Linked DNA regions of Homo sapiens. The protein of the gene in region 1 interacts with the protein of each later gene in a biochemical or structural test. Each region holds a gene or a part of one and is shown on either strand. Other genes may lie near its edges.

Evidence for each region.
Region 2: the proteins of KRT14 (region 1) and TCHP form a complex in vitro, tested with the Homo sapiens proteins (one study listed by BioGRID).

The regions. Positions count from the first base shown.
Region 1 is NC_000017.11:41,584,087-41,590,238, forward strand, and holds the start of KRT14 (keratin, type I cytoskeletal 14), read right to left. Parts: upstream 2,810-6,152; 5' UTR 2,749-2,809; coding exon 2,224-2,748; intron 972-2,223; coding exon 889-971; intron 328-888; coding exon 171-327; intron 1-170. UniProt on the Homo sapiens protein: The nonhelical tail domain is involved in promoting KRT5-KRT14 filaments to self-organize into large bundles and enhances the mechanical properties involved in resilience of keratin intermediate filaments in vitro.
Region 2 is NC_000012.12:109,903,274-109,906,773, reverse strand, and holds part of TCHP (trichoplein keratin filament-binding protein), read right to left. Parts: intron 2,854-3,500; exon of another isoform or gene 2,838-2,853; coding exon 2,627-2,837; intron 2,038-2,626; coding exon 1,981-2,037; intron 1,946-1,980; exon of another isoform or gene 1,760-1,945; intron 203-1,759; coding exon 134-202; intron 1-133. UniProt on the Homo sapiens protein: Tumor suppressor which has the ability to inhibit cell growth and be pro-apoptotic during cell stress. Inhibits cell growth in bladder and prostate cancer cells by a down-regulation of HSPB1 by inhibiting its phosphorylation.

The DNA of each region.
Region 1 (6,152 bases):
TTTTTTTTTTTTGGACAGGGTCTAGCCTTGTTGCCCAGGCTGGACTCAAACTCCTGTGTTCAAGTGATCCTCCTGTCTCAGCCTCCCAAGTAGCTGGGACTATGGGCACGCACCACTGTACCCAGCCTCCCTGCATTTCTTTTAAGCTGACTTTTCCATATAGTTCTCACCTCCTCGTGGTTCTTCTTCAGGTAGGCCAGCTCCTCCTTCAGGCTCTCAATCTGCATCTCCAGGTCAGCTCTGGCCAGGGTCAGTTCGTCCAGCACCCTGCGCAGGCCATTGATGTCGGCTTCCACACTCATGCGCAGGTTCAACTCTGTCTCATACCTGGAATGACCCCAGAGAAAAGGTATGAGACACCCATCCTGATCACAGCGAGGGCTTTGTTCTCTTCTCCCTGCAGCTTCTCCCAGAGCTGGTGCCTTGTGGGTGGTTTAAGGAGCCAATCTTGAAAATGGCGTGGTTGAACACAGTGCCCATTGATTGCTCAGATATGAACATTCCTGCGGGCTGGGGATAAGGCAGTTCATCTTGCTGCAGAAATCAGGAGGGGGTTGCACTTCTAGCTTCAGCCAACAAATAATGCAGAAGTCCTCCAACTATGATTCCTTCCTATACTTCAAGGGCAGCTGGGGAAGTGGAAAGTGCCTCTCCCTAAAGCAGCGGTTCTGAAACCTGGCTGTGGACCAGAATCACCCAGGTAACCTGCTATAAATAGCTGAATCAAAACTCCAAGGGTGGGGCCCAAGAGTCTTATTCTTTTATAAGCACCCCAGGGAGTTTTCATGCACCTATCCTGGTACTGGCTAGTTCTATTTGGGAAACACTGCTCCAAAAATGCCCTACTCTGGGGACACTGGATGTTCTGGCCCACCATTTCAAACTCACTTGGTGCGGAAGTCATCCGCGGCCAGACGGGCATTGTCAATCTGCAGAAGGACATTGGCATTGTCCACTGTGGCTGTGAGAATCTGCAGGATGGAAAAGGCACAGGTAATTTGTCAAATGGACTTCACAAGCTGGACTTCACTGTAGCCTACATTAAGCTCTTGCTTCATGTTCTTGCCTGAATCCCCCTTTTCCCCCACAAAACTTGACCATAGCAGCCCAAAGGAAAACAGATGCCCCAGGCCTGTCCTAAGACTTTGCTAACTCATGGTCAACAGAGGGGGTAGATGCAGCCCCGGGCTTAGAATCGAAAGCCCAGGAGTTCTGGTCCCAATTCTGCCAGTGTCTTGCTGCAAAACCTAATGGGTCTTGGGGCTTCAAGTTCCCCACCTCCAGGTGAGGAGAATAATCTGAGGCTCCCTAGCCCTCCTTCCTGAGCTGACCTCTCTTCTGTCTGCATCAGCCAGCCCTGCCAGTCCTCTGCAGATATGCACATTCCTTTTCAAGCTCACAGGCCATGGGACTTCAAGTGGAACTTTCTCAAGAGATAAAACCCAACTAACACAGGGGATTAGAAAAGAGGACTCAGGGGAAGAATAAGAAGATATATTGGCCCCTGAGTCTGGTTGGATTTCCCCACCTCATCATTGAATTTCCCTAATCCATGCAAGTCATTAGAGCCCAACAGACTCCAGCAGGGAGGGCTCCCAAGTAATGTGGGAGCAGGGAGGAGGGGGCTAGAGTCAGGGCACAAGCCTGCCAGGCTCTCTCTGTGCAGGGCACATCAAGGGACCACACTAATTGTCTCTGCAGGCTCTCCATGCCCGCCTGGCTGTGGGGAGGGACCAGCCTGTACCAAGGCTTATGGGCGGCGGCAGCCACAGCCCAGACTAGTGAGCTAATGAGTGGTTTGGATGTCTTGCCTGGTCCCGTTAGAGCCTCACTCCTCCCCTGTGCTGGAGAACAAGTAGCTGCCTCCTGTGCTGGAAGGTAGGGCACAAGGGCCCCAGCCTTGGCTCTGCCATTAATTTGCTATGTGACCTGCAGCTGGTCACAGCACCTCTCGAAGCTTCAACTGCTTCCTCTAAAAAATGTAAGGATAGGAATCACTGATCTCACATGGTCTGAGGATTTGAGATCAGAAGGGGATGAGGAGGCTGGGGAAGGGAAAGCATCTTCTCACTGATCAGTCTTAGGGCATCCAAGACCTCGAAAGAAGGGATCTGGGGTGGACTCTGTCCTATAGAGAAATCTTAAGGTCTCAGGGGCCTGGGGCATGAATTGTTCCCAGAAGGAGCTAGCTGGAATGGTGCCTTCTGCTGCCCATTCACCCACCTTGTTCCTCAGGTCCTCAATGGTCTTGAAGTAGGGACTGTAGTCTTTGATCTCAGCAGGCCGCTGCCTCTGGTACCAGTCACGGATCTTCACTTCCAGGTCGGCGTTGGCCTCCTCCAGAGCACGCACCTTGTCCAGGTAGGAGGCCAGGCGGTCATTGAGGTTCTGCATGGTCACCTTCTCACTGCCCACCAGAAGCCCATCACCACCAGCAAAGCCACCACCAAAGCCACCACCCAAGCCAGCACCAAGGCCACCACCATATCCTCCCCCAAAGCCACTACCAAAGCTGCTGCTGCTGCTGCTGAAGCCACCGCCATAGCCGCCCCCCAGCCCGCAGGCTCCCCCAGAGGAGAAGCGGGAGGATGAGACAGACAGGCCGCCCCCGTAGGTGCTGGGGGCGCGGCAGGACCCTCCGGCCAGGACGGAGGAGATGCGGCTGGAGCCGCCCCCGATGCCGCCCCCGATGCCGCAGGAGCCCTTCATGGAGCTGGAGGAGGTGAACTGGCGGCTGCAGGTGGTCATGGTGCAGAGGAGGGAGGTGAGCGAGCGAGCAGTTGGCTGAGTGAAGAGAAGGTGCTCGGGTAAATTGGAAAGGGATGCGAGTGCTTTATACTCGTGGGTAGGGGGCGGGTCTGGCACTTTCCATTCCCCTTGGCTTTCATCACCCACAGGCTAGCGCCAACTCCCAGCCAGGTCCCTCCTCTCATCCGCCTCATCATGTCTGTCATATTTTACTGGAAACTCATTGTTTGGAGTGTTTTGGGCTTTCTTGTCCCGCCAGGCGTGATTCACAGGGGGAGGTGTGGGCCTGCAGGCTACACTTTCCCATCGGACCCTGGGAGTCCCAGCCCTCAGGAACCCGCGCACTGGGCTTAGCCAGGGTGACAGAGAGCAGGGCCTCTGCACCTTAAACCTAGTTACCTGCTAGCTCTCCATGAACTGAATGGGCCTTTAACATCCACGTAGAGGAAGCCTGCTGCTGCAGGGGATGGATACCCGGCTGGAAAGCACCGGCATGGCAAGGTCACCTTGGGCACAGACAGGCCTCCCTCACCATGACCCTCTATTAGAGACAAGGAGGTCTGGGGGGCCCTCCCAGGCCTGACCTCCCATGCTGTGCTGAGAAGTCTGTCCCATCCCTGAAATACACCCAGCTAGTCAGGTGTATCGTGGTTCCCACCCCAACATCCCCATCAAAGAGAAATCCAGGCAGCTCTCCCCAGCCCTGAGCACAGACCCTAATCTCCTCCCTATGGTGAGGATCTCACATCCACCACACCATAGGGCAGGTGGCCTCATGGAGGCCAGGAAACAGCCTGGAGTCAGGTGGGTCCTGGCTCTGCCATTTACGCCTCTGTGACCCAGGGCTTGGCACTTCTCTGAGCCTCAGTGTTCTCATCTGCAAAGTGGGAGTCATACCATCTATTCTGCTTAGTGCAGTCAGCTCTGAGAATCCAATGCGACAATGTATGTGAAAGGGTTTTGTAAACCGAGTATGGCAAGAAGCCTCGTTGGCATTGTTATAGCCCAGGCTTAGCCCCAAAGTGGCTGGAGCTGCATCCAGGAACAGGCCTAGGGGGGCCTTTTATTCTTCCAGCCCCAGATATCTTCTCAGACCCCCAGAACATCCCTAGTGTGGGCAGCTCAGGCGCCCTCGTTTGAGCCCCTTGTGGAACTGGCCCAGGAGATGTTCTGGGGAGGAGTAGAGGCTGGAGTGGAGCTGGGCTGTGCCAAGGGCAAGGCTGAGGTGGACACGAGGGTCCCTGACTCCTGAAGCCCCAAGGGTCAGGGGACATTTCTAGGAGTCCACTTGGTCCTGCTTTGGAGGTGTGTATATCAAAACTTCAGCAATCTCCCAGACAACCTCCCAAAGCAAACCCTTCCGGCCCCCACCCCACCCTCCCATCAGCCCCTAGGCTCCACAGACCCCGGCAGGCATGTTGAGAGGAATGTGATCGTGTCTGGGGCTGCCTGACGCATCCTATCTCCTCAGACAGGCCCCAACAGCCCCTGCTGGAGGCTCCAATGCTCTTCCTGGGATCAACTGCTCCTAGAAGAGAAGCAGGACCCTCTGTCACCCCCAACCCCACCTTGACTGTCACCAAAGAAGAAGCCAGAGAAGGGAGCCCCCCACTACTGTGGCCTAGGAGCTTGGAAGACAATGCTGAGACAGACATCTGAGCTGTGGGCTCCCCAAATCTGCCAGCAAAGGACTCTCAAGGATGTGAGTAAGCCAGGGCCCCACCCCGCTCCACCCGCCCCTGACAGACACTCCTAATCTCCCTGCAGAGAATGGTCCCCCCACCCTGGCCCAGCCCTACAATTTCCCCAGAGAGAGGCAACAGGGGTTTTGGCTGAGGGACAGATGCTTTTGTTGGGAGGCATGTTGCTGTTGGCTGTGGGGCAAGGGGAGGCTGTGCTCACTGGAGAAAAATGCTGTGTCCAGAGGGATCTGGGAGCGGGAATGGGGTGCAGAGCCCAGTACCGGCTTCCTCTGTGCCCCACCACCCCCACCCACCACCACCACCACCATGTCTCCTTCTTATGCAGGGATCAGGAATAGAAGCTCCGGAGCCCGGGACATAGGAACAGCTCTACTTTCCCTTTCATTTCATTCAATAAAACCCAAAAGAAACTCCTTCCTCCCCCTCCTCCGAGGGGAATCCAAAAGATAAAGATGGCAGGGAACCAATGACAGATCAGTCAATCACATAATCTTAAAAGGCACTTCTGCAGTCCCACCCCAACCCCACGCACCAACACCAGAACCCTAGCATGGAATATAAGCCTGATCCCCCACACCCGGTCTTAGAACCGTGACCCAACCTGGAGCCTGAGGCCAACCCCTGCAGACAAGGACTCAGTGACCAAGGAGCTGCAAACAACCCAGCCAAGCAGGGAGCAGACTTAGAGGACACCACACTCCCCTCCCCTCCCTGATGCCAAAGAAGCATGGTACTCAGACATTTTAAGGGAGGGCATTTTCTGGGGCATCAGGGGTTAAAGGGTTGTCAGTCCTGACTGCTGAGGCCCAGAGTACCCCCCACCTCTGGACTTCTAGGCAGACTTTGTGTGAGCACCATTACCTGACCCTCCCTCCAGCCTGCCCCAAAAGGAGGGGGGTAAAGGAGGAGCCCCGGGCAGGACCTCTTGTGGTTAGTGAGTCTCCCTGCACCACCCTGCATGGGGGAGCCCTCTGCCAATCCAAACAGGTGAAGCTGGCAGGGCCAGGCAGCACCTCCAGAGCCCACACTGTGTGCTGAGGACTGTGCTGGGGACCAGGAGATGGCATCCTAAGGAAGGAGGAAACCTCAGGACAGCCCCCGCCCTTGGAGTGCATGGCCTACTGGAAGAGACGATCCCTGCCTTTAGGAAGGTCCCAGCATGAAAGAGAAGCAGGAATGCACATCAACATTACTTAACATACAAACAAATGGAAGAAAAGCACAGACAAGTAAGATTGGTTTCCCAGGGCTGCCATAACAAATTACCACAAATTTGATGGCTTAAAACAACTGGCTGGGCACAGTGGCTCACGAATATAATCCCAGCACTTTGGGAGGCCAAGGCAGGTGGATCACCTGAGGCCAGGAGTTCAAGACCAGCCTGGCCAATATGGTGAAACCCCATCTCTACTAAAAATGCAAAAATTAGCCAGGTGTGGTGGCAGGTGCCTGTAGTCCCAACTACTCGAGAGGCTGAGGCAGAAGAATCACTTGAATCCGGGAGGCAGAGGTTGCAGTGAGCCAAGATCACGCCACTGCACTCCAGCGTGGGCAACAGAGCAAGACTCCGTCTCAAAAAAAAACAACAGAAATGTATTCTCTCTGGAATACATTCTGGAAACCATAAGCCCTGAATCAAGGTGTTGGCAGGGCCACACTCCCTCTGAAGACTCTGGGGAAGAGCCCTTCCTTGCCTCTTCC
Region 2 (3,500 bases), on another chromosome or scaffold:
AAGTAAACTAAGAAAAGAGTACACTACACTCCTTAACTGGAGTCACTGATGCTGAAAACGGTAAACGAATGCAAAGACGTGAACAGTCTCGCACAGCAGAATACGCGGCTATTCCCAGAGCCACATACCACACCTGTTTTTTTTCTTCTTTCTGCATTTCCCAAGAGTTTACGACATGCTTCTGGTGAAGGTCCAGCTCCATCTGAGGATGGAAGGGGGACGATGTGAATTTCCTCACCAGACAGATGGGCACTGTGGGGACAGTGTGCTCCTGCCCTCTGTGCCACCTGCGGGAACGTGGCCATGACTTCGCTTCATGGGGACTCAGTGGCACAGGCGTCTAGTAGAGAGCGTGGGGTGACTTCAACATGTATAGTGTGAATGCATGTCAATCAGAAGACCAAAGGACCAGGCACTCCTACACCAATCTTTTGAGCTGGTACAAAGTAACAGAGACTTCCCTCCCACTAGCCCTAGGGTTGGGCTGGACGCTGAAATGGAAATACAATTTCAAAGGCCACCTTGGGTTGATGTACTGCATGCCAGGCCCTGGGAGACAGCTGAGTGAGAAGACTCAACCCTGTGCCTGGCTCCCCGAAGTTTCCTCTGCAAAGCAGATGGACTACGTACTCCCTGTATCAAGTGATGCACCAGTAGGTGCAACAAGTTTAGCATTGTTAGTAAGAGATTTGAGCGCAGACAATCTCCTGGATTAGAAAATGGATCACAACATTCAATCCAAATCTTTTGTTTGGGAAACTGTTTATAAAATTAGCTGGATATGGTGGCGCCCACCTGTAGTCTCAGCTACTCGGGAGGCTGAGGTGGGAGGATCACTTGAGCCCAGGTTTGAGACCAGCCTGAGCAACACAGGGAGACCCTGTCTCTATAAAAAAGTTTTAAAATAATCTTTCCCAACTTACAGCTGTGAACATAGGCAATTAACTTGAATGTTCTGAATAAACTTTTCTGATTTAACGGCTCTGGATGATTCCACCGAAGCCAACAGGGCTAAGGAGTCCTCCCACAGATTAGTGCAAACTGCACAAAAGCACCAGATGTTCCATTATTTAGTGCCTGGCGATTTCTAAATGTAACTACGAATAACACGAAGGCACCAAATGTATACAAAAACTGTAAGTTGAAAATAAATGAATAACAGTGAGGGATGATCTCCCTGCAGCCAAATCTCCACTGAACAAGGCCACCAAGCCAAGAGGCCACCCCCTCCCCTGCCAGCCCAGTTCAGGCCTTCACCAACCCCCGGCTGGGCTGTCGCAGCACCCCTCCCTGTCGGCGGGCACATTGCTACCAGAGGAGTCTCTCTGAAATGCAGCTGGGATCCTGTATGCTGCCCCCAGCCCCTTTGGAGGAAGGTCACACAAGCTCTTCCGATGTCTGGCACCCTCTGCCTCGCCAGCGTCATTTCTTGGGGTTCTCCCTCACTATCTGACATCCTAGCCTCACCCAGACACTTTCAGCTCCCAGGGCTCGCTCTGTTCTCGAGTCTCAAGCCTGGTTCTCACAGTCACATCAACCTAGAACATCCTTTCCTCACCTCTACACACATACATCCCTTCAAACTCTTCCACCCCAGGAACTCCTCTGGGAAGCCTCCCCAACCCCTCCAGAGTTGAGTGCGCTGGCCCATGCTCATCCTCTCAGGCTGGCCCAGCACCCTGCATCCTGCCCTGTAATGAGCTCCCATGCTGGACACAAGCTAATGAGCAGAAACCATGTCTAATCTCCATGCCCGCACCTGGCAGACCAGGCAGCGGAGGTTCAATCAACATTTGTTCAACAACCGAATGAGCCGCTCAGCGCAGCCTGTGCCAGATCTTCTGCCTGGCGCTCTTTTCAGGTGGCTCAAGGTTCCCTCCTCTGTTTCAACCCGGTACAAGATACGTGTTCAAAAAAAAAAGTGTCTGGAAACATGATTTCATCTACTTAGATAAATCAATGGAGATCTCTGATTTTCACCTCTCGAAGTTTCGGGTTGTTCTTTTTCCAGTGTTCGTACAAAAGTTGTTCAGCAATCTATCAAGAAAACACAAAATGGAAAGCCTGATGTCATTTTTCAAATCCATTCACATTTTGGATGACACACAGTGGAAGTCAGCTCAGGCTATGAGTGCCTCCCTTCACACCGTCACTGCAACCACTGTTCAAACCCTCATGCTTCACATGCACAGCTCTGAGAACCACATGGCACTACCAAGTGACTCTTGCAATGATGACAAAAGGGGGCCAAAATCTGATGCTACACAGAGGTCCTATCTAGGGGGTCTCAAAATAATACAGCAGGCTGAAAAGCACAGATTAGGGCTCACTGTTTCACATAACTACTTTGGAAGGTAAAACAGACTAGTCCCAGATCTCTGTGGACCCACAGAACTGGAAGAAAGGAAAAGCACTCAGATGTAATGATTGAAGGGGCTAAAGAGACTACAGCTAACTGATCCAAAACCCAGTCCCTGCACAAGGACCTAAGCTCTTTTCCTGCTGGCTCTGGAGTTAACTGGCATCTCATCAGACCTGAGCACCCAGGAATGACCCTACATGTGCGACACACTCAGGCTGGGAACACTCCTGCTCCACAGCCTCCTGAAGCCCTCTGGGGAGTTACCAGTTTCCTCTGCTCTTCTTTGGCTGATTTCAGCTTCCCGTGCTGCTCCCGGATTCTTCTTTCCTGCAAGTTCATGCTCAGCCTCAGCTCCTCCAGTTCTCTGGCCAGCAGGTCCTGCTCCTCCTGCATGAGCTGCCTGAGCTTTTCCCGTCGGGCCTCCAGACTCCTCCTCTTCTCCTCCTTCATCTTCTCCCGCTGATAGGCATGCATGCTGGGTGAGAGGGGGCCTGCCTGAATCAATCATGCTACAGCCACAGGGAACGTGCTCTGCTCTGCTGTGTCGGTAAAAGAGGCTGAGGTAGATGTGTCATGACGACACAGGAATGTGTCCCCAGCCAAAGCAGAGACAGCAGGTCACAGAATAGTATGTGTAAGAGAAAATCTTGTTTTTTGCAAAAAGAAAATGTATAAATGTATAAATAATGTATATATTATCCATCACATAAATCCTACAGCATAGGTCTGCTGTAGCCCCACTTGATTGATGAGGAAACCAAAGCTCATACATTCAGCAAGAGACACGGTCAGGATTTCCATCTAGGTCTGACTTCAAAGCCTATGCTTTTGGCCTCCATGTTTTTACACGTATTTCTATAAAAGTAGCTTTGTGTGTGTATATTTAAGCACAAATACCAGTGGGAAACAGCATGGAAGGATATGTGCCAGACTGTTAACTGTGGCTGTCTCTGGGGATATGGGGTTACAACCAGGCTTCCAAATTCTATCATATGCTTCTGCATCATTTTATCTTTTTCAATGCCAATGTATGGCTGCACTGATGATCTTTTTTTCCATTTCCAGCTGGAAAAACATCACCATGCAGGTAATTCATACTGCCTGGCAAATCCTACGCTCCCTAAATCCTTAAGGCCTC